7 linked regions of the Homo sapiens genome follow. The protein of the gene in region 2 purifies or fractionates together with the protein of the main gene of each other region. This does not show direct contact. Each region holds a gene or a part of one and is shown on either strand. Other genes may lie near its edges.

Evidence for each region.
Region 1: the proteins of GNL2 (region 2) and WDR46 purify together in Homo sapiens (affinity purification with mass spectrometry; 3 studies listed by BioGRID and IntAct, with this or other methods). This does not show direct contact.
Region 3: the proteins of GNL2 (region 2) and MCM10 purify together in Homo sapiens (affinity purification with mass spectrometry; one large-scale study listed by BioGRID and IntAct). This does not show direct contact.
Region 4: the proteins of GNL2 (region 2) and RP9 purify together in Homo sapiens (affinity purification with mass spectrometry; one large-scale study listed by BioGRID and IntAct). This does not show direct contact.
Region 5: the proteins of GNL2 (region 2) and KIFC1 purify together in Homo sapiens (affinity purification with mass spectrometry, with the first as the bait; one large-scale study listed by BioGRID). This does not show direct contact.
Region 6: the proteins of GNL2 (region 2) and SPATS2 purify together in Homo sapiens (affinity purification with mass spectrometry; one large-scale study listed by BioGRID and IntAct). This does not show direct contact.
Region 7: the proteins of GNL2 (region 2) and NEMF purify together in Homo sapiens (affinity purification with mass spectrometry; one large-scale study listed by BioGRID and IntAct). This does not show direct contact.

The regions. Positions count from the first base shown.
Region 1 is NC_000006.12:33,279,107-33,283,229, reverse strand, and holds the end of WDR46 (WD repeat-containing protein 46), read left to right. Parts: intron 1-2,242; coding exon 2,243-2,556; intron 2,557-2,707; coding exon 2,708-2,802; intron 2,803-3,370; coding exon 3,371-3,466; intron 3,467-3,619; coding exon 3,620-3,733; intron 3,734-3,855; coding exon 3,856-3,954; 3' UTR 3,955-4,122; downstream 4,123-4,123. UniProt on the Homo sapiens protein: Scaffold component of the nucleolar structure. Required for localization of DDX21 and NCL to the granular compartment of the nucleolus. Part of the small subunit (SSU) processome, first precursor of the small eukaryotic ribosomal subunit.
Region 2 is NC_000001.11:37,581,954-37,586,076, reverse strand, and holds part of GNL2 (nucleolar GTP-binding protein 2), read left to right. Parts: intron 1-2,143; coding exon 2,144-2,210; intron 2,211-3,140; coding exon 3,141-3,299; intron 3,300-3,740; coding exon 3,741-3,854; intron 3,855-4,123. UniProt on the Homo sapiens protein: GTPase that associates with pre-60S ribosomal subunits in the nucleolus and is required for their nuclear export and maturation.
Region 3 is NC_000010.11:13,195,876-13,199,998, forward strand, and holds part of MCM10 (protein MCM10 homolog), read left to right. Parts: intron 1-1,747; coding exon 1,748-1,892; intron 1,893-2,813; coding exon 2,814-2,932; intron 2,933-4,123. UniProt on the Homo sapiens protein: Acts as a replication initiation factor that brings together the MCM2-7 helicase and the DNA polymerase alpha/primase complex in order to initiate DNA replication. Additionally, plays a role in preventing DNA damage during replication.
Region 4 is NC_000007.14:33,094,174-33,097,350, forward strand, and holds the end of RP9 (retinitis pigmentosa 9 protein), read right to left. Parts: coding exon 3,098-3,177; intron 2,382-3,097; coding exon 2,320-2,381; intron 1,260-2,319; coding exon 1,061-1,259; 3' UTR 624-1,060; downstream 1-623. UniProt on the Homo sapiens protein: Is thought to be a target protein for the PIM1 kinase. May play some roles in B-cell proliferation in association with PIM1.
Region 5 is NC_000006.12:33,401,482-33,405,604, reverse strand, and holds part of KIFC1 (kinesin-like protein KIFC1), read right to left. Parts: intron 2,292-4,123; coding exon 2,238-2,291; intron 2,121-2,237; coding exon 2,070-2,120; intron 1,877-2,069; coding exon 1,476-1,876; intron 754-1,475; coding exon 1-753. UniProt on the Homo sapiens protein: Minus end-directed microtubule-dependent motor required for bipolar spindle formation. May contribute to movement of early endocytic vesicles. Regulates cilium formation and structure.
Region 6 is NC_000012.12:49,365,974-49,370,698, reverse strand, and holds the start of SPATS2 (spermatogenesis-associated serine-rich protein 2), read right to left. Parts: upstream 3,238-4,725; 5' UTR 3,112-3,237; intron 1-3,111.
Region 7 is NC_000014.9:49,828,499-49,832,621, forward strand, and holds part of NEMF (ribosome quality control complex subunit NEMF), read right to left. Parts: intron 3,780-4,123; coding exon 3,709-3,779; intron 3,629-3,708; coding exon 3,553-3,628; intron 2,864-3,552; coding exon 2,801-2,863; intron 929-2,800; coding exon 851-928; intron 765-850; coding exon 556-764; intron 310-555; coding exon 118-309; intron 1-117. UniProt on the Homo sapiens protein: Key component of the ribosome quality control complex (RQC), a ribosome-associated complex that mediates the extraction of incompletely synthesized nascent chains from stalled ribosomes as well as their ubiquitin-mediated proteasomal degradation.

The sequences.
Region 1 (4,123 bases), on a different chromosome or scaffold from region 2:
ATAATTGTATCTTTTTTTTTTGAGACGGAGTCTCACTCTGTCACCCAGGCTGGAGTGCAATGGTGTGGTCTCGGCTCACTGCAACCTCCACCTCCTGGGTTCAAGCGATTCTCCTGCCTCAGCCTCCTGAGAAGCTGGGACTACAGGTGTGTGCCACCACACCCGGCTAATTTTTGTATTTGTAGTACAGATGGAATTTCACCATGTTGGCCAGGCTGGTCTTGAACTCCTGACCTTGTGATCCACCCGCCTGTCCTCCCAAAGTGCTGGGATTATAGGCGTGAGCCACCGTGTCTGGCCTTTGTAATTGTATCTTTGTGAATGAGTGATTTGGTTCTGCCCTTTTTACTCCATATTTATACCAGCCTGGCTCTAGGAGAGTCAGAAGGCCTGCCCAAGGGTTTCTGCCCTCTCTGGGCCACTGGGCCAAAGCTGTAGCTTGCCCTCCGTGGGCTACCTGGGTCAGCCACTCCTGTGCTTAGGGCTTAATCACTAGTTCGCTGAGGCCTGAAGTTTAATCAACACCTTGAGGCTAAACAGCTCTGGTCCTTGTGATCTTCAGCCCATCCCTGCTTTTCTCTGGTCCTCCTCAGGAGCTTGTCAGGCCACGGGGGCTCCAGTGATGAGGCTGACCATCTTTCTTAAGAGGTGTTCTGGTAGCTTGTATTATGATTGGATTGCGTTGACTTCTCAAAGCCGAACTGCTGCTTACTAGTAGTACAGTAGACTCCCATTTGGCACTGGGCTGGTCTTTACCCAGGGGTCCCATAGATGGGTGTGTGGAGGGGAGAAGAGCCAGCATGCATCCTTGAGTTGTTAGTTCACCAAAGGATGTGACCCTGTGTTCCACGAGCGCTCGGTAATTCCTGGTTTGCACTGATGGCCTTTCTCTTTGGTAAAGTCAGGGCGCTGATTATCTTGTCGGAAGTATCCAGCTGGTCCTCTCTTGGGCTCCATCACTGTGCAAGTCTCTGCTCATAAGAACTCTTCAGTTCCCTTCTCCTGGGTTCACAGCCAAGGCAAAAAAGAGACTCCTTGGCCTCTTGGCAAACATACATCCCCTACCTGGCTGGTCCCCCTTCAGCTTCCCTCTCTAAGGAACAACTTGAACATAGAAACTCCAACCTCACCTGTAATCCCAGCACTCTGGGAGGCCAAGGTGGGCAGGTCATTTGAGGCCAGGAGTTCAAGACCAGCGTGGTCAACATGGCGAAACCCTGGCTCTACTAAAAATTAGCGGTGGTGGCGCATGCCTGTAATCCCAGCTACTTGGGAGGCTGAGGCACGAGAATCACTTGAACCAGGGAGGCAGAGGCTGCAGTGAGCCAGGGTCATGCCACTGCACTCCAGCTTGGGCAACAGAGAGACCCTGTCTCAAAAAAAGAAAAGGAACTCCAACTTCTGAAAGTAAACAACTTATGCAGTACATGATTCCTGGAGAGGATTTGGTCACCAACCTTCCCTCCTTCCTTCCAGGGAAAGCACACAGAGGGGCAGGGCAAGGGCCTCCAGTGCATTACTTCACCACTTCCCTGAGTAGGTCTTCTCAAGTCCTTGGAGCCTTCACTTTGTGATTTGTCACTGCCAGAGAGCAATGTTGGGATCATGAGCTGTGGGTCCTCAGTCTGACTTTAAAGAAACCTCACAAATTGTCTGCTCCTGATTTTCCTGACCATGTTTCCCACCAATCCTAACAAACCTCTGCTTCCCTCTCAGTCTCAACACTCTGGTGTTAATGCATTTGAACCTGCTGTGTATCTACTTCCTGTAATTTTTTGAGAATTATCTAGAATGGCTCAAATCCCACCTTTCCCATGAAGCCTTTCTGACCACTGCACATGCTCCTTCCCCTTGCTGGGCTGTGTGCTGCATGTGTGTACAGGGGGACATCACATTTGGGTGCAGCCTGTCGTGTGGGCGTTCCTTTTGACGCCCGTGTCTTGAGAGGGCTGTGTGGTGTTAGCAGGTTAGAGGCAGATGCTAAAGAGACAGGCCTGACCATTCACTGACCTAGCTTTCCTTTCCCTGAGCTTCAGTTTCCTCACCTCTTAAAGGGAAATAAAAATAGTATGAGTTGTGTGCAGCTTAACTGAGAGGATGCCTGTGGAGTGTTCAGGGTGATGGCAGTGGTTATTACTATTAATCTTTTTCTCCCCAGCCAGACTTGATGCCTGGACTTGGCCACAGCTTGCTTGGTAAACCCATTTACTGACATATTAATTGATCCCTCTTCTCTCACCAGGTACATGGCCACCTCTGGCCTAGACCACCAGCTGAAGATCTTTGACTTGCGAGGGACGTACCAGCCTCTGAGCACTCGGACCCTGCCCCATGGAGCAGGGCACCTGGCCTTCTCCCAGAGGGGACTGCTGGTGGCGGGAATGGGTGACGTTGTCAACATCTGGGCAGGGCAGGGCAAGGCCAGCCCACCCTCCCTTGAACAGCCCTACCTCACCCACCGGCTCTCAGGCCCTGTGCATGGCCTTCAGTTCTGCCCCTTTGAAGATGTGCTGGGGGTGGGGCACACTGGGGGCATCACCAGCATGCTGGTCCCTGGTGAGTGGGCCAGGGGATGGGGCTTGAAGTGAATGAACTCTGGGTGGAAGTTTGGGCCAGAGACATCCAGGAACTGGGGGCTTAGTTGGGCTGGAGCTGTTGGACTGAGGTTCTTCCTTATGGCTCCATGCTTCTCCCTCCCTCCCTTCAGGGGCCGGTGAGCCCAACTTCGATGGCCTGGAGAGTAATCCATACAGAAGCCGGAAGCAGCGCCAGGAGTGGGAGGTGAAGGCCCTGCTAGAGAAGGTGAGGCTCCCCTGCTGGAGAGGGTGAGATCCCCCCCATTGCTGGAGAGGGTCAGGTTCCCCCGTCCTGGAGAGGGTGAGGTTCCTCCTTCCTGGAGAAGGTCAGGTTCCCCCCTGCTGGAGAAGGTCAGGTTCCCCACTGCTGGAGAAGGTCAGGTTCCCCCCTGCTGGAGAAGGTAAGGTTTCCTCTTCCTGGAGAGGGTGAGATTCCCCTCTCCTGGACGGGGTCAGGTTTCCCTCTGCTGGAGAGGGTGAGATTCCCCCTGCTGGAGAGGGTCAGGTTTCCCTCTGCTGGAGAGGGTGAAATTCCCTCTCCTGGAGAGGGTCAGGTTCCCCCCTGCTGGAGAGGGTGAGATTGCCCCTGTTGGAGGTGAGGTTCCCCTGCTGCAGAGAGTGAGGCCCCTGCTGCTGGGGAAGGTGTGGTTTGGGGTTGGAGGTAGAGAAAGCTCTCCTGATGTCTCATGCTGGGGGTCTTGGGTAGAGGGGTTCAGCAGCCTCCCTGGCTTCTCTTTTTGGTGCTACCCTCCTGTGGCTCCTTGCTGAGTCCTGTCCCTCTGTGACACCCCCAGGTACCTGCAGAGCTTATTTGTCTGGACCCACGAGCCCTGGCCGAGGTGGATGTCATCTCCCTGGAGCAGGGAAAGAAGGAGCAGATAGAGAGGCTGGTATGGAGCAGGCCCCTGAATGCCCAGGCCCGTCTTCTCCCCCACATCCTCTCCCCACCATGGCTTGTCCCCAGAAGTGCGGCCAGCAGGTGGGTGCTGCCAGTTCCCTGACTCCGAGGCTGTAACAGATATCACTCCTGTCCCCTCCCTCAGGGCTATGACCCGCAGGCTAAGGCTCCCTTCCAGCCAAAGCCAAAGCAGAAGGGCCGCAGCTCCACGGCAAGCCTGGTGAAGAGGAAGAGGAAGGTCATGGATGAGGAACACAGGGTAAATGAGCATTGGCATGGGCCGGGCCTTCCACAGGCTGCACCCTCCTGCTTGTGCCTCTGCCCTTGTCAGCCTGCCACTTCTCACTCTGTGCCTGTGTCCTCCCCGTCTCCGGTCCCCAGGACAAGGTCCGGCAGAGCCTTCAGCAGCAGCATCATAAGGAGGCGAAGGCCAAGCCCACGGGGGCCCGGCCATCTGCCCTGGACAGATTTGTGCGCTGAGCCAGACTCCAGGGTTGCCTGGGAACAGTCTCTCCCCAAGATCACCTGTAGGGAAATGAGTGTTCCCTGGAACAAGGAGGTGGGGGCAGTGTGGCCCCTTCCCCAACTGGGGGTGGACAGCTGTCTCCTGGGGTGGGTTGGTATTAAAGAGGAAAGCGATTTTTTGGAT
Region 2 (4,123 bases):
TAGTTTTTCCTTATGGTGAACAACACAAGGATGAAGCATCAATGTGACCGCATCTTTTTCATCCTTAATTATTCCCCAAAGATAAGTTCTTACGGAGCAAAGCATGATATCAAAAGGTATGCATGCTTTTTGATAGGCAGCTGCCACATTGCTCTTGAGAAAGGGTTTAATTTCATTTCCCTTGGGCAGTGCTAGAAAGCTCTCATTCTCGTCCATCTCATGTCTCTTAAATGAAGTGGAGGTTTTGCTGTCTTAGTGAAGAGGCATTGTCCTTTGACTGCATCAGTGTTATTACCTCATTGCTATTGTCAGCCCATCTTCAAGCATTGGGCCACCTAGAGATAAAATGTCAAGCCATTTGAGGCCAAGCAAAAAGAGGCAGTGAGTTCATTTATTTGTTCTTAGAATTATTTGAACTTTCGTTGGCTTTGTATTCTGCCGATTTGAATTTTTCCTTCCGCAACAGGTATAGTAGGTAATGCAGTAAAGACAAAACTATTTTTGTTTACCTTGGGTAAATGTCCTAGAGACTAGTAAATAAACAGATTCTAAACCTTATCAGAAAAATACTGCTGTATATGGGAGCTATGGAGTATAGGTTGTGATTCAGGTCCTGCCAATTCCATTTTGTAATTCTCTGTGACATACTGCCTAATTCAGTCATGCTTTTTTTTAGTTTAATGTTTTATTGTGGTAAAATATATGTAACAAAAAATGTGGCCAGACGCAGTGGCTCACACCTGTAATGCTAGCACTTTGGGAGGCTGAGGCGGGCGGATCACCTGAGGTCAGTAGTTTGAGACCAGCCTGACCAACATGGTGAAACCCAGTCCCTACTAAAAATACACAAATTAGCTGGACGCAGGGGCGCACACCTGTAGTACCAGCTACTTGGGAGGCTGAGGCTGGGGAATCGCTTAAACCCGGGAGGCGGAGGTTGCAGTGAGCCAAGATCGCACCACTCATTCCAGCCTGGGCGACAGAGCGAGACTCCGTCTCAAAAAAAAAAAAAAAAAAGTACTCTTCTAACCATTTGATGTGATCTCGGCTCACTGCAATCTCTGCCTCCCGGGTTCAAGCGATTCTCCAGCCTCAGCCTCCCGAGTGGCTGGGATTACAGGTGCCCGCCACCACGTCTGGCTAATTTTTTTGTATTTTTAGTAGAGACAGGGTTTCACCATGTTGGTCAGGCTGGTCTCGAACTCCTGGCCTTATGATCCACTGCCTCAGCCTCCCAAAGTGCTGGGATTACAAGTGTGAGCCACTGTGCCCAGCTCTTCTAACCATTTTCAAGTGTACAGTTTAGTGATACTAAGTTCATTTACATTGTTGTGCAATCATTGCAGCTATCCATCTCCAGAACTTTTTCATCATCCCAAACTGAAACCCTGTACCCATTTAACACTAACGGTCCGTTTCCCCTCTCCCCCAGCCCCTGGTAACAACATTCTACTTTCTCTCTCATGAATTTGACTGGTTTAGGTGCCTAATATAAGTGGAATCATACAGTATTTGTCCTTTTGTGTCTGGCTTATTTCACTTAGCATAATGTCTTCAAGGTTCATTCGTGTTGTAGCAGGTGTCAGAATTTTCTTCTTCTTTTTTTTTTTTTTTTAATTAATTATTTTTTGAGACAGGGTCTTGCTCTGTCACCCAGGCTGGAGCAGTAGCCTGCTCATGGCTCACTGCAGCCTCAACCTCCTGGGCTCAAGGAGTTCTCCCACCCCAGTCTCCCCAGTAGCTGGGATTACAGGCATGCACCACTATGCCCAGCTAATTTTTGTATTTTTTGTGGAGATGGGGTTTTGCCATGTTGCCCAGGCTGGTCTCGAACTCCTGGGCTCAAGCAGTCTGCCCTCCTTGGCCTCCCAAAGTGCTGGAATTACAGGTGTGAGCCACTGAGCCAGCTGGAATTTCCTTCTTTTTTAAAGTTGAATGCTATCTTGTGTATATATGTGCCACATTGTGTTTATCCATTTATTTGTTGACAGACATTTGGGCACACTTTTTAAATTCAGTTTGTTTCTGGTCCATCTCCAACTGGGTTTGATACTGTTTTTTTTGGTACATTGACTTTACCCTAAAGCATCCTTTTAGTCTTGATGGTGCTTCAGTTGCTCATTTGGGGTGCTTTCTTATTTAGAAATGAAGCTCAAGAAGAGATCTATAAAAAGGGACAGTCCAAAAGAATATGGGGTGAGCTCTACAAGGTAAGACTCCTAAATTCTCTCCCATTGAGTGGTTCCTTGGGCTTTCATGATTTTGTAGAAGAAAACTAATTTTGATATATTGAAGCTCTGTTGCGCAGAGTACAGGCACCACTGCCTGTTCCATCCTCTTCCTCCTACAAAGAAACTCGGAAGGCGTACTACCATTGATCTAGGTAACTGCATTTTTTAAAGTACTTGTATAAGAGTAACAGCTATCTTTTATTATACAATCACATATTTATTACCTGTCAGTATTTTTTAAGATTTCCTGCCAAATTTATCATGCCTAGTTAAAGTCACATGCAACATTTTAAGTTATTTAGTCCACCCCTCTCCTTTTATCGATGAGGACTCCTGTCTAGAAAGGTTTAATGCTGTACCTAGCTCGACTAGCTTGTTAGTGAAGGAGGCTTTGTATATCTTGATTTCTGATCCAGTGATCTTTAACCGGCAGAGGTTTATGTCCATGCACTAATAATAACCTTCAGAAGAAAAATTTTCAAGTATAATCACGTAATTAAATAGTAACATGATAGGAAACTAGTACCGTGAAGGCAAGCTAAACTTTGTAGTTTTTTGTGAAATACACAAAACCTATAATATTACAAACTTAAAGATAATATTACAAACTTAAAGAAGTCTAAGAAGTAAATGATTTAGTTCAATAATCCATAGTAGTTAGGAAATAAGTTGAGTTTCATCTAAGCTAGTTTTTCTGTTTTAAATTCAGCAGGTTTCAAAAGCCACAGGATGAAAAACCTTTTGAATTCTGATCACTGGGCCTTGAGATTAGCCACAACGAACTCTGCCCAGAGACTGTTTTGAAGTTGTCTCTAAATATTATTATTTTATTTTTCCCAGACTCCCTTAAATGTCATCCCTCTTTTATTTGTACTGTAGCAAACCATTTTTGCCTTTCTGAATTTTCAGGTGATAGATTCATCAGATGTTGTAGTTCAAGTTCTTGATGCTAGAGATCCAATGGGTACTCGTTCCCCTCACATTGAAACTTACCTGAAGAAGGAAAAACCTTGGAAACACCTCATTTTTGTACTTAACAAATGTGACCTTGTTCCAACCTGGGCAACAGTAAGTACAACTACTAAACCAGAATAGACTATTAAGACATCTGTTAGTAAGTCAGTTGTAGGGCTTTTAGGCTAAAGTGTTGTCCGGCTGAGATTGTAGTAATGGGAGTGCTCTCATTGGAAACACGAAAGTGTGCTCATTGATAGTGGGCAGAGGCACCAGGAGACGGCTTCTGAGGCCACTGCCTGCTTCACATTATGCTCCATTAATTGCATTTAGTAACAATGAAGACATTTTTTGGAATATTGTTTTGTATTTATAAGACAGAAGAACAAAGCATTAACTGTTATACTTGGAAAAAACATTTCAAAGAATTATAGCTAACATTTTCCTTAGACAACAGTATATTTGAAACAGTTCTGTAATTCAAGCTCTGATTCTTCCACATAATGTAAATAAATGTACTGCAGTTTACCAAAATGTTTTCATCTCTCCTTCTAGAAACGGTGGGTTGCTGTCCTCTCCCAGGATTATCCAACACTTGCTTTCCATGCAAGCCTTACTAACCCGTTTGGCAAGGGAGCATTCATTCAGCTTCTGCGGCAGTTTGGAAAGGTATTGAGCCCTGATCTGTTTCTCCTGGAGTTGTGTAGCTGTGAGTTGGTATAAGAATCTGTCTTGCCATGGCATAGCAGAAAGTTGCCAACTTCTTAGCCGGACGTGGTTGCGCAGGTCTGTAGTCCTAGCTACTCAGGACGCTGAGGCAGGAGGATTGCTGGAGCCCAGGAGATCAAGGCTACAGTGAGCTATGATGGCACCACTGCACTCCAGCCTGGGTAACAGAGCAAAACCCTGCCTCTAAAAAAAAAAGATGTGGCCGGGCG
Region 3 (4,123 bases), on a different chromosome or scaffold from region 2:
TATAGGTGTGAGCCACCATGCCTGGCGGTTTTATTTTTTATTTGTTGAGACAGACTATCCCCCTGTCACCCATGCTAGAGTGCAGTGGTGCAATTATGGTTCACTGCAGCCTCAACCTCCCAGGATCGATTCATCCACCTGCCTCAGCCTCCCAAGTAGTAGCTGGGACTGCAGGCACATGCCACCACGCCTTGGCTAATTTTTGTATTTTTTGTAGAGATGGGGGCCTCCCTTTGCTGCCCAAGCTGGTCTTGCACTCCTGGACTCAAGCAGTCCCACCTCAGCCTCCCAAAGTGCTGGGACTACAGGCATGAGCCACTGTGCCTAACCAAGAATCCTTTAAAAGAAATCTTACACAAAAGTCCAGTCCCATGACAGGTGAAAGCTGAGTTGCTGCGGCTGAAGTAGGGGTAGGGCACCCAGAGCCCCACCTGCCCACTTCCTGAGTGCCCCAATCGAGCCTCTCTCTTCCCTTAAGTTAGCAGCTGCAGCCAAATGAAGGGCAAAGCTTGCTGTATGCCAAAACCTTACCTATAATAATAACAACAGGAATACCTACAATAACCATGGCACATGTCCATATTACTCAGTACTTGTGATATGTGTGTGCCATGTATTTACTATGTTTATTTATTTATTTATATATATATTTTTTGAGATGGAGTCTCGCTCTGTCACCCAGGCTGGAATACAGTAGTCCGATCTCGCCTCACTGCATCCTCTGCCTCCTGGGTTCAATCAATTCTCTTGCCTCAGCCTCCCGAATTGCTGGGATTACAGGTGCCCACCACCATGCCTGACTAATTTTTGTATTTTTAGAAGAGACAGGGTTTCACCATGTTGGCCAGGCTGGTTTCGAACTCCTGACCTCAAGTGATCCACCTGCCTCAGCCTCCCAAAGTGCTGGGATTACAGGCATGAGCCACTGCGCCCGGCCAGGAATGTATTTGCTATGTAAAGATTCATACTTTGCAGATATTATCTTATTTCATCCATACAACCATGACCTTCAAAGGTAGGTCAATGCTATATCATCATTTCCTTCTCTTTTTTTGTGTGTTTGTTTTGAGACAGGGTCTCACTCTGTCTCCCAGGCTGGTGTACAGTGGTGCAATCACAGCTCACTGAAACCTCCATCTCCCTGGGCTCAGGTGATCCTCCCATCTCAGTCCCCTGAGTAGCTGGGACTACAGGCATGCACTACCATGCCCAGCTAATTTTGTACCATGCCCAGATGAAGTCTCACTGTGTTGCTCAGGCTGGTTTTAAACTCCCGAGCTCAAGAAATCCACCTGCTTCAGCCTCCCAAAGTGCTGGGTTTACAATGAGCTACCATGCCAAGCCCCATTTCCATTTTATACTTGAAAAATTAAGTAATTTTCCTTGGGTTACAAGCTAGTCCGTGGCAGAGCTGGCTGGAACTTTATCTTAATTCTCTCTGATTCTAAAACTTCCAAAATGGTGATGTGGCTCCTTTATGGATCTGGAAGCCTGCAGTCTTGCTGATGTCAAACTTGTTATATTTAAATAAACTAAGATTTTATTCATCAACATATAGACCTGTCTCCCATGCTATTATATTCTAGTAATTGTGTTAATAATACTAAGTAAAATTAAGATATGTTCTGCCAATTTCTGTCAGAGAACAGCCAGAATTCACTGGTTACTAATAAAAAAGGGATCCAGGTCTATAAGTGCCTCTGTCATCTTTTAGATCTTTACCTCCCTCTCATTCCCTTTTTTCTAGTTAGCTGCTATCACCAAATTAAGGGCAAAAGGCCAGGTTCTTACAAAAACAAACCCAAACAGCATTAAGAAGAAACAAAAGGACCCTCAGGACATCCTGGAGGTGAAGGAACGTGTAGAAAAAAACACCATGTTTTCTTCTCAAGGTACTGCAGTTTCACAGTTAACAGTGGGAAAGAGAAACTGTTTCTAAGGGAAATATGTTCTAAACCCAAACCAGCACCCAGATATCAAGCAATTACTTCCATTTCCTCCTATATAGAATACCTAAATAGAATTTCTATGGGTGGAACTGATTTTTTTTTTTTTTTTCATGGAGTCTTGCTCTGTTGCCAGGCTAGAGTGCAGTGGCGCAGTCTTGGCTCGCTACAGCCTCTGCCTCCTGGGTTCAAGCGATCCTCCTGCCTCAGCCTCACGAGTAAGTGGGACTACAAGCGCGCGCCACCACGCCCAGCTAATTTTTTGTATTTTTAGTATAGATGGGGTTTCACCATGTTGGCCAGGATGGCCTCGATCTCTTGACCTCATGATCCGCCCGCCTTGACCTCCCAAAGTGCTGGGATTACAGACGTGAGCTGGAACTGATTTTTTTATAATTACATTAAATTGGAATGAAATTGGGCACAATTTGAATACTTGGGAATAGGATTGCTCATTGGATCTTTGTACATATATATATTAGCATAAAGATTTACTTTGACAGAACTAGAATTCCTTTGTTTTAAATTGCCATATCTTTATTTTTAAAACTCTGAAGTTGGCAATATCATTTTAACATAATTGTCAACATTATTTACACTGTTGTTATCTGTTACTATCGTCAGCTGCCTATTTGAAGGTGAAAAAGAGATTCTATTTAGTGGTAAAATCTGCCACCACCCCACATTCTAGGCTCAGCTTCTTGGCTCACCTCTGAGAGCTTTTCCCTGCTGGGACCAGCGGGGGTAGGTCAAGTTTGAAGGGCTGGTAGGCAGAGGAGGAGGGAGTGGGAGGGAGTAGAGTTGATGAGGCGCACTGGCTTTCTGAAATTTCTTGGTCGCTGCTAATGTTTGTTCCTTGTGCCCTAGCTGAGGATGAATTGGAGCCTGCCAGGAAAAAAAGGAGAGAACAACTTGCCTATCTGGAATCTGAGGAATTTCAGAAAATCCTAAAAGCAAAATCAAAACACACAGGCATCCTGAAAGAGGTAAGAGCCCAAAAGCTCAAGGATGGTGTTGATGTCCGATGTCCTTCAAAGCCAAGGTGCTAGCTGTAGGACCAAGAATGTGTTGTTTGTTTTATTTTGTTTTTCTGAGACAGAGTCTCAGTCTGTGGCCCAGGCTGAAGTGCAGTGGCGCCATCTCGGCTCAATGCAAGCTCCGCCTCCCAGGTTCAAGCGATTCTCCTGCCTCAGCCTCCCAAGTAGCTGGGATTACAGGTGCCTGCCACCACACGAAGCAAATTTTTGTGTTTTTAGTAGGGACAGAGTTTCACCGTGTTGGCCAGGCTGATCTCTAACTCCTGACCTCAAGTGATCCTCCAGCCTTGGCCTCCCAAAGTGCTGGGATTACAGGCGTGAGCCACCATGCCCGTACCCAGCCAAGAATCTGTTTTTTACATAAATCTAAAAGTAGGTATATGTCAGTTTGTTTGAGTTTGCTTTGAAGAACAGGAGAATTTCTAATAAATTTTAGCTTTGTCCTTGTCTCTTTACTGAAGAATATCATTTGATTTAACATGACTTAAATAGATATCAATATTATAAAAATGTTTGCATTTGGTTATGGCTGTGAAATTATGTTTAAATGGCTCTACACTGCTGCTATTTTCTGCCTTGCAATATGCAAAAAGAGTTTTCCCATTCCAGTATTTTTATATTGGCATTTCAAATGCTCTAAATCAGTAGTTAACCCCATCACACCCAAGGACCCTTTTTAATAACAAGTATTTTGTATTGCTTCCTTATCTTGAAATAAAATTCATAGATAATATGAATTACCTATACTAGTCATTTCGAAAAAAATCAATAAATATCCTAATGCAAATAAGAAAAAATGAAAAGATTTGTGATAAAGATACAGATTTCATTATGGATTCATAAATGCAGAGGCAGAACTAGCTTAGGGGAAATAATCAAGTCATCAGAGGCTTGGACTTATCAGTGTAAATGAGCCAGAAATGGAGGCTCACATAGGTTTGTGTCTTGGTAAATAGCATGGACCTATTTCTTTGATAATGTAGGGGTTTTGTCAGGGGTTGGAGGGGTGTTCAGACAGGGTCTCCGTATGTTCCCCAAGCTGGTCTTGAACTCCTGGGCTCAAGCAATTCTCATACCTCAGCCTCCTGAGTAGCTAGGGCTAGATAATGTACTTTTGGTGGGGGTTGGGGAGGTTTTGTT
Region 4 (3,177 bases), on a different chromosome or scaffold from region 2:
AGCCAAATGTACTTGATATATAAAAACAGTGGGCCCACCCTATCAGCAGGTTCTACATTCGTGAATTCATCAAACTACAGATAGAAAATATTCAAAAAAATAAATGGATGGTTCTGTCTCTATGGAACATGTGCAGACTCTCTTTCTTGCCCTTATTCCCTAAACAATACATTATAACAACTATTTACATTGTATTAGGTGTTAGAAGTGATCTACAGATGAATTAAAGTATATGGGAAGATGTGTGTAGGGAACAGGCAAATAGCACGCCATTTAATATAAGGGACTTGGGCATCCACGGATTTTGGTATCTGTGAGGGATTGAGGGAGTTGGTCCTGGATCCAACCCCCTCAGATACTGACCACTGTAAGGTTCATACTTCTAAGTTTAAAATGTAACTATGTGTGAGTGAATGTGGATAGCATTTGCTAAGAAAAGCCCTGTACTTACTTGTGATATATAAAATATTCACAAGAAACTAGTACCACTGGTAGACATTGGGGAAGGTAACTGGAGTGGAAAGGAAGAAAGTAGAGTTTTCATGATTAAATATTATGTACCTTTTAAATTTGTATTAGGTATTATTTGTACTTATGTATTATTCATAAATAAATACATTCCATTTAAAAAATAAATAATGAGCTTTTATTATTCTCAACAACAGAGAAGACTCCAGCCTGATGTCTATGGGACCTGAGTCCACACTGTGGAGGGCACAAGCTGTGGGAGGGCCTGGAAGACACGCCTCAGAGATTCTCCCAGTCCTGCCACCCTGTGGGAGACACTTCAAAGGAATCGTAAACTCATGTGACCAGCAGGGAGGACAACGATGAAGAAACTTTCCTGCCTAAAATCAGCTGCTGTCCAGAGCTAGCACCTGGAAGGAGACACTCCCTCTCCTGGGGTCACATCTTCACTGCAAGGCGGGTGGGAGCTCACTGCTGTGACCCACATATACTCCTCTCTCGGCGTCTCTATCCTGCTGCTTTCTCTGACTGCATCTTCCTCTGTTCCTTGGTCAGTGTTTGAGAAGAGAATGTTGAACAAGTCACATCCTTGTCACTCTGAGTCAGAACCCTCATTTGACTTGGAAGATTTGTGCTTCCGTTTTTTCTTCTTTTTCTTTTCTTTCTTCCTTTTCTTATGCTTTTCTTTCTTCTTCTTTTTCTTGTGTTTCTCTTTACCTTCAGAGGAACTGGAGCTGCTCCTATCTTCATCTGAGGTAGAATCCTCCAGTAACTGTTTTAACTGCTGTATCCTAAACATTCAAAATTGATCAAAGAACAGTGAGTTTTAGCTTTAACTTACAACAGTTGCTTAGATAAATATGTCATTCAAAAGCAGTATAGGATGATGAATAACCATGTCACAAAGACAGTATTTTTATTTTTACCTGTTTTCTCATTCTTCTCCACCTGAATGCCTACTTTACGTGACTGAAACCAGTGTACAAGCCACTTTGTATTCTTTTTATTGTCCTAGACATTTCTGCATGTTTCCACAGTCCTTACAATTGTAATTTCTAACAGACGCATACTTTACTAAACCATTCCCCTACTGCTCAATTTCTTAATCTACATCTTTAACAGTTATAATGCCACCAATTTGAAAAAACAAACCCTCCAATTTTTTCCACCTCTCTCTAATCATGTCTAATTTTTTTCTTTTTTTTTTAGAGACAGGGTCTTCCTCTGTCACCTAGGCTGGAGTGCAGTGGTGCAATCATGGCTTACTGCAGCCTCAACCTACTGGGGTCAAGTAGATCCTCCCACCTCATCCTCCCGAGTGGCTGGAACTACAGGTGCGTGCTGCCATACTTGGCTACTTTTTATATTTTTTTGTAAAGATGGGGTTTTGCTGTATGGCCCAGGCTGGTCTCAAACGCCTGGACTTCAGCGATCCGCTGGCCTCGGCCTCCCAAAGTGTTAGGATTACAGGTGTGAGCCACTGAGCCTGGCCTAAGTATAATTTTTAACAAAAGCTCACATCCCTAAAGACTCTGGAGAAGATAAACTGAATCACATGAAAATATCAATTATACTGTACAAGTAGACAGCACAACATGGGTTGCCAACATCAACTGCAGTGGCCAGAGAGCTGGACCAAGCCCATGGCTTTAAGTTAACCCAAGGAGGAGGAGGCTGGCCTGCTCATTCCCCAACACTGGCCTTTTCAGCCATGACTCCTGCACTCCACATATTTTCACAATTGAAGTACCATGTTTACTGCACCATTCCTCTAACACTAGAGTGGTTTTCTCCAACTTTATATAATTTTAAAACTTTAAGGGGATATTGTTATCATCAGGACGACCTCACCTTACGTCCTTTTCATGTCGTTTATTGTCTCGTATGATGTCATACATGGGATCTTCATGTGCCTTAAGGGTCAGAGAAGGTTAAGGTTTGGTTAGGCTTCATGGATCACAAGTTAAATACAATGAAATGCCTATGTTATGAAAACCAGTTTATTTTTTTTTTTACTGTTTGATGTAGCTGCATGTTCAACATGTTCTAGGTCACATCACTGAAAACTCATTAAGGCTAAAAAATGGATTTTCCAATTAGAAAAATACAGGAAATGGCTACTCTCAGCACACTGTCTTTGGGGTAGCCCTGCTCTGCAGGAGCAATCACAGAGCTATAACACTGCCACCTCAAAAACAAAGAAAAATACAGGGAATAACTGTCATCTAAAGAAAAAATATACGGACACTTTAATCTTACAGTTTAAAGACATGTACTCTTTAAAGACCGGGAAATTAAATCCCTGATTTCAGTCATGAAACATGACTTTTTTACACAGTAAATTTTAAAAAGTGCGGTTGAATAGATAACAATGTCTGTTTCAGAAAAAAAATCACTGTTCCAAGTTACAAACAAAGATCACTTTAATAAGAATTCCTTTTTTTTGTAAAAGAGCTAATTTGTCATACAAATGTAATTTAATAAGCATGTAGTTAACAGCACACACTTTGGTCAAAGGGCTTCTGGGAATGTATTTTATGTGACCATTCAAGTTCACTGGTGACTTTCTGCTTCACTGATTTTCACTATCTCTGATAAATGTAAATTGACACTCTTGGACTTTACTTACCACTCTGAACTGCTCTAACTTTTGGTTGCCTTTGATAAAGAAAGGGCATTCTTTGTCACCCGTTCGGTGACCATAGCGTT
Region 5 (4,123 bases), on a different chromosome or scaffold from region 2:
TCGAGCATTGGTGACAGTGAGCTCCTCACTCCCTGGCCCTGCACGGCGAATCTCACACTCGCCCCCTTGACCCTTCCGGGTTCCAGTGGCCAGCAGGTCCCGGACAGTCTCATTGTAGATCTCTACGTAGCTTGCTACAAAGCTGTAGGTCCAGCCCTGACCACTCAGCTCCTGAGCCACAGAGAAGAGGTGCCGCAGGGCCCGAGGGATCAGCCCCTCCAACTGGGGGTCTCCCCCAGGCCCACCCTCCATTGTGAAGGTCTTGCCACTGCCTGTCTGGCCATAGGCAAAGATGCATACTGGATAGCCATCCAGGGCTGACTGGACAAGCATGGCAATCTCTTCAAACACTTCATCCTGTCCACTTCCTGGTGGGAATACCCGGTCAAAGGAAAAATCATGGCGAGTTGGGGGAGCTGGTGCCCCACTCAGGGTCCCACGCCGCTCGTCAGACCGGGAGAGGCTAAGGCGGGTTGGAGGATCAGAGGGCCCACCAGGGCCAGAGGGAAACAGGAGGAGGCCAGGGGGTGGAGTGGGCTCCCCCGGCAGGACAGGGCGGACCCGGCAGAATACACGGATGTTGCCCTTGAGTTCCTGCAGCTGGTTGTGCAGTCGCCGGCGCTCCATTTCTAGCCCATGAAGACGTTCTTCCCGCTCAGTCAGTAAGGCTGCCTGGGCCACAGTCTCCTGCCGCAGAGATGCCACCTCTGCTTGGCTGCTTGACAGGGCTGCTTCTGATGTCTGCAGCCTCCTCTGCCCAGAAGAGAACACAACATACACAGAGGGTAAGATGCAACCAAGAAGAAGAACAAACTGTGGGGCGTATGGAGTGGGTGGAAGTGAGGTCCCTGCTCAAAAGGACCTCAAAGTCTGGTAAACAAAGAAAGATGAGAAAATAAGGAATCATGGTACTAAGACAGGGAGTGCTATGGGTATGTCCAAGCACAAAGAGGAGCACAAGGAAGATGATATCTAGGGTGACACCCAGAAGTACAGGAGTGAACCAAGGAAGGATGTAGTATACAAAGAACATTCCAGAAAGAGGGAAGCACATATGCAGAATGCCCAGAAGTGAAAGTTGAGTCATTTAAGAGACTGCAAATAACTTAATCTAGTTGGTGCTCACCAGGAAGGAGTCAAGTGGACATGGGAGGAGGGAAAGAGAGTACCACAGGAATTTGTGATCAGGATGGGAACCCAAAGAAAGAGGGATGGAGGACTAAGAAAGACACAGATCTAAATGAGAGCTTTGCAAACAGTCAAGGGTAGGAAGAAGCGTGGCAGAAAGCAAGACAGTCAGGAGTGGGCTGGGGTGCAGACAGGTCAAGAGAGAGGTATCTTCAGCAGCACCTATACTGCTAAAGATAGGTGCTCAGGAGTTCTCAGCCCAGACTTGAGGGGTACCTGGAAGGGAGGGGAGGCATGACCTCTGCCAGGAAAGCGGGGCTGACATCTGGTGAAAATCTGGCCCTTACCTCCTTCTCCTCTAGTTGGGACATCAGTCCCCTCCGTTCTTCCTGCAATTCCACCTGTTTTTTCTGAAGCTCTTGCACCAAGCCCTCCTGCGTGCTCAGCCGCTCTTCCAGCTCCAGGACACAAGCACGCAAGTTCTTCAGCTCCTGTTGGCCCTGCTCAGCCTGGGCCTGTACCTTGGCTAAATGCCCCTCCAGTGTTGTGCGCTCTGTCCCCAGGGCCTTGACCTGCTGCTGGGCATCTCTGAGCTGGTCCTGAAGCTGCTGGTTCTCTTGGTCCAACGTTTGAGTCCTCTCACGGCACCGTTTTAGTTCTGCATTTAGGTCACATAACTGACCCTTTAAGTCCCAGGCTGGACGTTTGCTGGGTTTCTTCCCTCCTGCCATGGGAGGAACACCTGATGCTAAGATGAACACAGAAAGGACAAAGGTCAGTGAAGTCTAGGCTCTCTATCCCTCCTCCCTTCTAGCCTTTATGGGATCCACACCTGATGCTACATCTCCTTCCCCTTAGAGACCAAATGGATTTTTCTGGTCACTCACCATCTTCTCTTCCCTATCCCAGCCTCTCACCCAGTGGTTATGTTTGTCACTTACTGCCAGACTTCTGGACAGGAACAGCAGGAACTGGCTTCTGGTTCTTCAACCCTACAGAATTGAGGAGGTGACTTAGGAATTACAGGACCAGTGTCCCTCCACCTCCATCATTCTCCCTTTACACATACCCCAAATCCCTTCTCAGACCCAGCTCTTGAGCACAGTTACCTGTGGCAATAGCTGTGGAACACCGGGGTCCTGTCTTCTTGGAAACTTTTTGAGCTGCCCAGGAGATGGGAGAGAGCAAAGGTAGAATGATCATTCTTAAGATGGCATGTACACTTGCTAGGACAGGGGCAGAAGAAGTGCTTTTCTCAGAATTAGAAATAGGATAACTTCCTTCCCTTATCCCTAAGTCTGGCCAGCTCCTAATGATACCTCCCCTAGAACCAGAAATTACAGTCATCCCTCAGTATCCAAAAGGGGTTGATTCCAGCACCCCCCAAGAATACCAAAATCCAAGGATGCCCAAGTCCCTTACATAAATAGGTATATAGTATTAAATATAGTCTATGCACACGCTCCCATATACTTTATTTATTGATTGACTGAGACAGAGTTTCACTTGTTGTCCAGGCTGAAGTGCAATGGCATGATCTCAGCTCACAGCAAACTCTACCTCCAGGGTTCAAGCGATTCTCCCGCCTCAGCCTCCCGAGTAGCTGGGATTATAGGTATGCGCCACCACGCCCAACTAATTTTGTATTTTTAGTAAAGACGGGGTTTCACCATGTTGATTAGGCTGGCCTCAAACTCCTGACCTCTGGTGATCTGCCTGCCTTGGCCTCCATTTTGTTTTTTTTTTGAGATGGAGTTGCACTCTTCTCACCCAGGCTGGAATGCAATGGCGCGATCTCAGCTCACTACAACCTCCACCTCCAGGGTTCAAGCAATTCTTCTGCCTCAGCCTCCTGAGTAGCTGGGATTACAGGCAAGCGCCACCACGCCTGGCTAATTTTTTTTTTTTTGTATTTTTAGTAGAGACAGGTTTTCAGCATGTTGGCCAGGCTGGTCTCAAACTCCTGACCTCAGGTGATCTGCCTGCCTCAGCCTCCCAAAGTGCTGGGATTACAGGCGTGAGCCACCACATCCAGCCGCATATACTTTAAATCATCTTTAGATTACTTATAATATCTAACACAATGTAAATGCTATGTTAATACAGTCATGTGCCCATAATGACATTTCGGTCAATGACAGACTGCATATACAACAGTAGCCCCGTAACATTATAATGGAGCTAAAAATTCCTATTGCCTAGTGACATTATAGCCATGGTAATGTCATAGCATTCCTCACCTGTTTGTGGTGATTCTGATATAAACGAACCTAATGCACTGCCAGTTGTATAAAAGTATAACACATATAATTACATATAGTACATAATACCTAATAATGATAATGACTATGTTACTAGTTTATATATTTACCGTACTGTACTTTTTATTGTTATTTTAGGGTATACTCCTTCTATTTGCAAAAACAGTTAACTATAAAACAGCCTCAGGCATGTCATTCAAAAGGCATTCCAGGCCAGGCACTGTGGCTCACGCCTGTAATCCCAGCACTTTGGGAGGCCGAGGTGGGCAGATCAAGGGGTCAGGAGATTGAGACCATCCTGGCTAACACGGTGAAACCCCGTCTCTCCTAAAAATACAAAAACAAAATTAACCAGGCGTGGTGGCGGGCACCTGTAGTCCCAGCTACTCCGGAGGCTGAGGCAGGAGAATGGTGTGAACCCAGGAGACGGAGCTTGCAGTGAGCCGAGATCATGCCACTGCACTCTAGCCTGGGCGACAGTGCGAGACTCCGTCTCAAAAAAAAAAAAAAAGGCAATCCAGAAGAAAGCATTGTTATCACAGGAAGTCACATCTCCATGTGTGTTACTGCCCCTGAAGATCTTCCAGTGAGACAAGATGTGGAGGTGAAAGCCAGTGATGTTGATGATCCTGACCCTATGTAGGCCTAGGCTAATGTGTATATTTCTTCGTTTTTAACAAAAAGTTTGAAAAGCAAAATAATATTTAAAATTTTTCAAATTTAAGCTTATTTCT
Region 6 (4,725 bases), on a different chromosome or scaffold from region 2:
GACTGGGCAACATAGCGAGATCCTGTCTCTAAAACATAAATAAATAACCAAGAACAACTGTCAAACATATTGAGAAAAGTGGAAGAGTCTGTAACAGGCAAGCTTCACTGTCATCCTCCAGAGTCTAGATGACTTCGTTGAAAGTGAAGATCCCAGAAAAGAAGGGATGGACATGCTATTTTCATGTTGCTGCAGATATACACTAAGCAACTGAGGAAGCTGAATTATATTCTACAGGTCATTTGGTAATATAATGAATGGACTGTACTTCCTAACAATTACATCCAAAAAATACAAGCTTTTCCTTCCAGTTTCCAATGAAAGCAGCAAGACTGAAATAATCAGTTACACACATGAGAAGCCAGGTATATCTGAAAGAGTGACTTTTAGTTCCCAGTTTTAATATGGTGACCCTACAATGGGAAACTGAAAGCAGCAATTTTTAGAATAGTATACACAAATTTTCTTCACTGCCATTATAAAGTGACTTTGTGTAAGTTACTTTTAGCCCTTCTGAGCCTCATCTGAAAAATAAGGATAATACTTACAACTAACAGATAAGGTAATAATGTACACTGAGTTCAGCGCCTGGAATACATAAATGCTCAACAAACGAAAATTCCCTCCTGTCTTAGCCTGATCGGCCTCCAGGGGCTATGCTCATGTTTTGGCCATAACCTGTGGCTCCTCCCTCAGGCCCCAGCTGTTTCCCTCAGTTCTAGTTGTTTCACTCCTGGTTTCTAAAAGGATCCTATCTATATTTAGAGGTAATGCTAGTACCAATTGTGGGCTCAAGGGCACCTGAGTACTGAGCAGTTTTCAATTGTTTTCCAGAGTTAATTGGTTTGGCTCCACAACTGGCTGTCTTGACTTCTACAAGTAAGAGTGCCACGTATGCACAGTACCTCAGCAGTATAAGACTAAACAGAAAACTAAGTGTGGTCGCAGGACAAATCCTAAGCAAAAAGATGTTTTTAGCCCTATTTATCAGGATCCCAGACCTTTGTTAAATCACAGGAGCAGTAAACCTTCAATGAACTCCACAGAGTAGGCTACAGCCTACTAACTTAATCTTCATCTAAATCACAGTTATCAGACCCAAGTTTCAACCAGTTCATGCTGCTTTACTATAACCAAGATGAGGGTGAAGCAGAAAGAGCAAACAGGTAGTGAAGATTTTAAAAAAGGCATCCGATACAGCTAGGTCTGAATAAAGCTTTGTTATTTACTAGCTCTGTGACCTTAGTAAATTATTTAACCTCTTAATTTACAAAATATGAAATAATTGTGAGGATTGAATGAGATAATACATACAAAAAAATCTTAGCACCTTGGCTAGCCCACTGAAAGAGGTCAATTAAAAAAGAGGCACATTAGGCTGCGGTGGCTCACGCCTGTAATCCCAACACTTTGGGAGGCCAAGTCAGATGGATCAAGAGGTCAAGAGTTCGAGACCAGCCTGGCCAAGATGGTGAAACCCCCGTCTCTACTAAAAATACAAAAATTAGCCAGGCGTGCTGGCGGGCACCTGTAATTCCAGCTACTTGGGAGGCTGGGGTCGCTTGAACCCGGGAGATGGAGGTTGCAGTGAGCCGAGATCACGCCACTGCACTCTAGCCTGGGCAACAGAGCAAGACTCCATCTCAAAAAAAAAAAAAAAAAAAAAAAGAGGCACATTGTCACTAATGAGAACACTGCACTCATTTCTTGCTTTGTTCAATTTTCATAACATCTAAGAAAAGTAACAATTTAAATCATTATTTTTGGACCTTTGTAAAGTAACCTAAATGCTACCATCCAAGACCTAGCTGAGAAATACAAACTGATTAATGTCCATAAATCTTAGATGAGTCAGCAAAACTTAATGCCCAACAAATAAAAGGCTTAACATGGACTACTTAGGAGCACACAATGGTCATTACAATTTCAAAATCGGCAATTTTCTATCTAGTACAATCACAAATTTGGTCTGGAAATCCAAATATTAAGGAAATGCAAACATCATAATCAATATTCCCAAATCACCTTAATTGAAACTGGAAGGTATGAGGCAGCCTATTTGAAGTTAACATCAAGAAATAATTTAAGGCAGAACCCCAACTCTCTCCCACAAACACAAAACCAGTAGCAGATGGCACAAGAACATTTCTCAGTGAGAAATTGCAATTCTAACAAAGTACAGGTAACTTAATTTTATCCATCACCTTTTGGTCAAACTGAAAACAAACAACCAAGCTTTTGGTTCTCTCCAAAACACTGAAATCTGCATTATCACTGACCTAACTTAAAGCAAGATATTTTTGGTGATCTGTCCTCTCCTGCTTCATTAACCGTAGGTAAATTAGGAACAGTAGCCTGCTAAACAGAGGGGAAGTAAATATCACAGGCATGTTTTATCAATAAAATGGACAAGCGATAATCAAATTATTTAAAGAACGGCTTGTACTCCTTAACAGAGGGACAAGCTTGAGAAAGATCCACTTTCTAAAAGAACCTAATCATTCTGGATGAATTATGAGAAAAATATCACTGTAGTCCAAAACTGACTGAATCTACCTTTCTGCTTTAATCCAAGTCCTAACCACATCTATTTTATGTCTCTGCGTCTGTTCGCCTGATTTTCCATTTCGTCTCCCCCTTCAATTCCAAGAACGCCCTTCTCTCCCTTATTTTCAAATCTCATTATTGCCCCCGAATGCTAAGGACCTCGCACAGCCACGGAGGTGACCTTACGCATCCCTACTGCATTCCTAATTCATTGTACTTCTCATCCCAAATGATCCTATTCTTTCGTTCTATCTCGCTCGTTGTTTCTTAAAATCCAATACCCCACACACGCTCACGCCAGAGTCCCCCCCACACTCCATTGTTTCCCCGGCCTATCCGTCTGGAAACTCCCCAACTCCGACGCGGGTGTTTCACCCGCCCCACAGACCCCAGGAACCTTCCACCCTCTGGGCACTTCGGGCCTCTAAGGGCTCACATCCCCCTCCTTCCCGTCCCCCCGCCCCCAACTACCCCCTCCCTCTTTTTCCTCCCTCAACCCGCTCCCCGCACCTCGGCGCCCTCTGAGCCCCCGCCAACCCCGCCACCCAGCACCCTTAGCCTCACCTAGCCCAGGCCCCCGCAATCGCCTCGTCGCCCCAGCTCCGGGCTCCGCGTCCCGGACGCTCCCGGGTCTGAGAAGAGGAAAGGAGATCCTCCACCTCCCCTTCTAGAGCCACCGCCGCCGTCGCCGCCGCGCTCCTCCCCCAGCTCTCTCAGAGCCGGACGCCGCCCCGCCCCCACCGCCGCCTCCCCACTTCTCTCCTGGGCCGGACTGCAGGATGCTGCCGGAGATCCAGCAGATCACCCCGACCCTCGCCCAGGCAGCGGCTCGCCCCGCCCCGGAGCCCTCTCGGGCGCGTGCGCGCCAGCCAGCCAGCCAGAGCTCAGGGCGCGTACTCGCGCCGGCGCGAATCCGGCGCGCCAAGCTCGAGGCTGTGGCAGCCAACGGGTGCGCGAGCGCGGCTCGAGCGGCGAGACGGCCCGCGCACCGGAGACCGAGAAGATCGGGGAGAGGCGCGGGGCGGCGAGAGGCGGGCTCCGACCAGTCGGGTTACCGCTCTTCTCGGGGCCCGGTCCCTCGCGTCTCGCACCGTCCGCAGGCTCGCGCGCCACCGGAGACTGGGAATTACCGGGGAAAGGAAGAGACTCGGGGAGAGGGTTGGGGACAAAGTAGATGGAAGGGGAAAACGGGTGGGACGCGAGCTCGCGTCCGCGTGCAGCACAGCTCGTACCCGGCGGCATCGGTTAGGGACCCGGCGCGCGCCGGGAACGGAGGGCCCGAGCTGAACTGACGGAAAGAGCCGAAACTCCCCCGGAGGTGGCCGAACGCGGGCGCCGCTAGGGGAGTCGAGCGCGGGGCTTTTGCTCAATGTCCGGGTTGGGAAGCTTTTTCTCTGGCCGCCGGGTACAGCGCCGCTCACTCTTCCGTACCGAGGACTTCACACCGCTTTCCCCTTCGCCTCCTTCCCGACCCAAGTTTTGTTCCAAAAGGCAATTTCAGAGTCGCCAACGACGGGAAACGCTGGGGCCTCCGGACCGCGCGGTCGCTCTGCCTCCTGAGAGAGCGCAGAGGCCGGTGGGGGCGCGGGAAGAATGACCTCGGGATCGTCAGTCGGGTTTCTGATCTACCCAGCTGTCAGCATAGCCCCTCTACGCGGCGGTGGTCGGTCCCGCCGCCCTTCGAATCTTTTCTGTTAAATACTCTCTTCGACGCCAGACTCCCAACCTCCCTGGTGCTGGAACTAACTAGTATTTGTGCACCCTTTCTGCATGCATAAAGCACTTACCTCAGTGTCGACTGGTCAGGGGTCTATTAAGAGGGGCCAGAGGGATTTAGACAGTCAGCATTGAAAATATTTATTAGAATCTGGGGCCGGGCGCGGTGGCTCACGTCTGTAATCCCAGCACTTCTGAGAGGCCGAGGCGGGCGGATGACTTGAGGTCAGGAGTTCGAGACCAGCCTGGCTAACATAGTGAAACCCCGTCTCTACAAAAAATACAAAAATTAGCCGGATGTGGTGGCACACGCCTGTAATCTCAGCTACTCGGGAGGCTGAGGCAGGAGAATAACCTGAACCCAGGAGTCGGAGGTTGCAGTGAGCCGGGATTGCACCACTGCACTCCACCCTCCATCTCAAAAAATATATATATATATTAGAATTTGTCCTCATCTTACCT
Region 7 (4,123 bases), on a different chromosome or scaffold from region 2:
TTTCACCCAAAAAAAGTATGCATGTACAAGTGAAATTTAAAATTTTTTAAAATGTCCTTAATTCCTTAATTTATTGCAGATAACACTTGGCCTAAAATGTAAAGTTAAATGACTTACTTTTTGGCATTGGCATATGCTGACAAGCTGAGATCAACATCTACAAGTAAGGGCTTATTTTTCTGAGGCTTCTGCAGCTGTTTATTCTTTTGTTTTTTCTTTTTTCCTTTTGGTGGTTCAGTTTCATTTTTCTCAACATTGACGTCACCATCAACATCATCATCTTCCTCCTCTGATAACAAGTATGGATTTCTATTAAAAATATTCAATAGCATTTCACTAACGTCAATGACATCACTTTTATTTTCAATTTTCTTCTTCAATAAAATTATAAATGGTTTACAGTACTGGAAGTTTCATTATTTATTTTAATCTAAATTAGTTTTTTCCCTTTCTTTGAGAATTTCAAAATATGAAGAAAAAATGTTTAATACAGTGAACAATTAAAATAACAAAATAAAGACAAGCATTAACTGCTTGACTAAGAGTCAAACTTACCTTAGCAGCATTGTAACATGGTTTGTTTGTAGTTTTAATTCTTTGATTGCACTTGCAACAGGGTCTCCTTGAGCCTGGGCTTCTTTCACAATTAACCCAATTTCTGTCCAATCTATCTGGTTAGCTAAAGCACTTCGAACTACCTGAATGGCTCTGTCAACTATTTGTAGGTTCATTTCTATGAGCTCTCCTTTCAGTTTGTCTATTTCCTTAAAAAACAAACCACACACATTTACTACATTGCCAGTTAAAGTTAACATTTTTGAAAAAGCACTGAGAAAGCCAAACATAATACCTGAGCCTGCTGAAGAGCTTCCAATCTGTTTTCGTGATCCTTTCGAACATTATCTAATTTCTTCAATGCTTGCTTTTCCTTTTATTGGCAAAACAGATTTTTTAAAAATTAGATTTCTCCTACCTCATGACATCCCTCTCTTACTTCCCAACACTCACTATCCTGACCCCATCTATGCTGTTATCTAGCTAGCTGAAGTTCCCATAGTCTACCACCCTAGGCCTATCCCACTACAATGCGTTCCATGCCCCAAAATTACTTCTCCTGTCTTCCTAACTCCCACTCCTTATATAGAAAGGTATTTTGATTACAGGTTACTGTGTATATAAGATATACCCCTAATACCCTTGGCATTATTCAAACAGGCAGAAATCAAGACATTTTTTCCTATGGCACAAAAGTAAAGTTTGGGAGAACGAATTCTTTATTTTTTTTTAAATAATAGAGACCGGGTCCCGCTATGTTGCCCAGGCTGCTCTCCAATGTCTGAGCTCAATCCTCCCACCTTGGCCTCCCAGAGTGCTGGGATTACAGGCCTGAGCCACTGCACCTGGCAGGGAATGAATTCCCAAAGAGCATAAATTACCAAATGACTTTGTATTTTTTGCTACTTTTGATTTTCTCACAACTATTTCCAGTATTTTACAGAAACTTTTTCCCCTAAATTAATAAGACAAAGGCTCATGGTAGTTATTTGGCATTTTATCATATATACTTTACATTTCAAGGTTATCAATTGGGGGACAAAATTTCTAACACTAGTAATATCATCAATTAATGAGTATTTAAATGCTAGATGAAATATTTTTTAAAATTTAGATAAGAATGATGACTATTAAAACCCACAAAATAATTACCAAAATAAATCACTAGTATTTTGACACCCATGAAACCATGGGGTTCAGTTTACTAGCCAAAGTGCTGCCACCATGTGGTAATTACATGATGTATATAATTCATCTGACTGGCCTACCTGCTTTGAAATTGTGCTATGATTAACTAATTTTTAAAAACTGAAGAGGAAGTGGTACAGGGATTCAAACAATTTGATTTTTTTTTCTTTAAGGCAGAGTCTCACTCTGTCACCCAGGCTGGAGTGCAGTGGCACAGTCTCAGCTCATTGCAACCTCCGCCTCCCAGGGTCAAACAATTTTTGTGCCTCAGGCTCCTGAGTAGCTGGACACCCATACCACACCCCATTAATTTTTGTATTTCCAGCAGAGACAGGTTTTCACCATGCTGGCCAGGCTGTTCTTGAACTCCTGACCTCAAGTGATCTGCCCGCCTCGGCCTCCCAAAGTGCTGGGATTTACAGGCGTGCGCCACCGCGCCCAGCCTCAAATAATTTGAAATTTTTGCACACATATTTTAAGACTGTTTTTGAAAAAATCAAATCCCCTTCAAATCAAGAGTGACTATTAACAATTTATGAAACTGTTCTGCAGCAAATGCTCTAAAAACATGGTCAAATGTGCTGGGAAAATACTGTATATCACTTCTTTTGGAGTCATGATACACAGAAAACATATTAAGACTTGGCTTTAAAGTCCATTTAAAAAAGAAACAGTTTAATGATAAACAATATCCCCTCCTCTGGCCTATTTAAAATCTCCCTAAAACAGTATCTCCTTAACAGCAATGTTTGAGAAGCTTTGGGTTGTTCTGAGCAAACCACATTAAGGTGTAAATAACAGGCCTCACGTTCCCACCGTATTTTCCTTTTTTTACAGAATATCTGAAATACTCATGAAACAAATGAGGACATACTTTTCAACAATAAAATCCCCCATGGACCTTCTTCATAAACCTTTATCATAAATAAAGAGGCAGGTCAGAGAGTTCCCATACTACTTCTTACACTCTTTCTGAAAGGCTACCCTTTCCTATATCATCTACCCATCAAGCCGCTAAAGACTAGCTGGTTTAATATGTGTTTTTAATAATACATACCTGTTGTAAAGCTTTTAAGTCAATTTTCTGGCCTTCTATCTTGGAATAAAATTCATCCACCGCCTTATTAAAAAAACAAACAACTAGTTGGAAAAAAAAGCACAGTCTCTACTTCAACTTGCATACACAGAATTTTATTTTTTTTTTCTTTTTTTTTGAGACAGAGTCTCACTCTGTTGCCCAGGCGGGACTGCAGTGGCGCGATCTAGGCTCACTGCAACTTCCACCTCCGAGGTTCAAGTGATTCTCCTGCCTCAGCCTCTCAAACAGCTGGGACTACAGGTGCACCCCACCACACACCGCTAATTTTTGTAGTTTTTCAGAGACAGGGTTTCACTGTGTTGGCCAGACTGGTCTTGAACTCCTGACCTCAACTGATCTGCCTGCCTTGGCCTCCCAAAATGCTGAGATTATAGGCATGAGCCAGCAAGCCCAGCTGCATACACAGAATTTTAGATTCCATTGTGTTTCATAACACCACTCAAAGAACTTGAACAGATTTCCGGTAAATGTATTATATGGCTAAACAGTATCAAGAATCAAATGAAGTTCAAACCTCTGGTCCTTCATCCTGAAATAAAGTGGCAACAATTATTTCCAACAGCTGTATCTGTGACGACACTGATCTTTAATGCCCAGATTCACAGTGAATGTAAAGCAAGTATAGTTTCAGTTTCTCAATAGAAGCAAGTTGATATCAACAGCTCATATCATGCTAACTAACTGGTAAAGGAACAGAACGGAAAACCCACCTTGTCAAATGATTCAAATTCTATATATGGACATTGTGAATGTTGAGAAAACAAGAAAGGATGAAATTCCTCATACCTGTAAAACATATTTATTATATCACATTCGAGAACATTAACAAACATCCAAAGCAAATTGACCCATGCCTATATGCTTACGTCAGTATGTCTTCAACTGGTTTATCTGCTTCCAAGCTTGGTTTTATTTCTCTTTTCTGAATGATATATCCCTACAAAAATGCAACATTAAAATCATTCCTATTCATAATTAACAAAGATTTACTTCTTTTTTTTTTTTTTGATACAGTCGCGCTCGCTCCATCACCCAGGCTGGAGTGCAGTGGTATATTCTCGGCTCACTGCAACCTCTGCCTCCCGGGTTCAAGCAATTCTCATGCCTCAGCCTCCCAAGTAGCTGGGATTACAGGTGTGTGCCACCATACCTGGCTAATTTTTGTATTTTTAGTAGAGACAGGGGTTTTGCCATGATGGCCAGGGTGGTGTCGAACTCTTGGTCTCAAGTGATCCGCCCACCTTGGCCTCCAAAAGTGCTGAGATCACAGGTGTGAGCCAC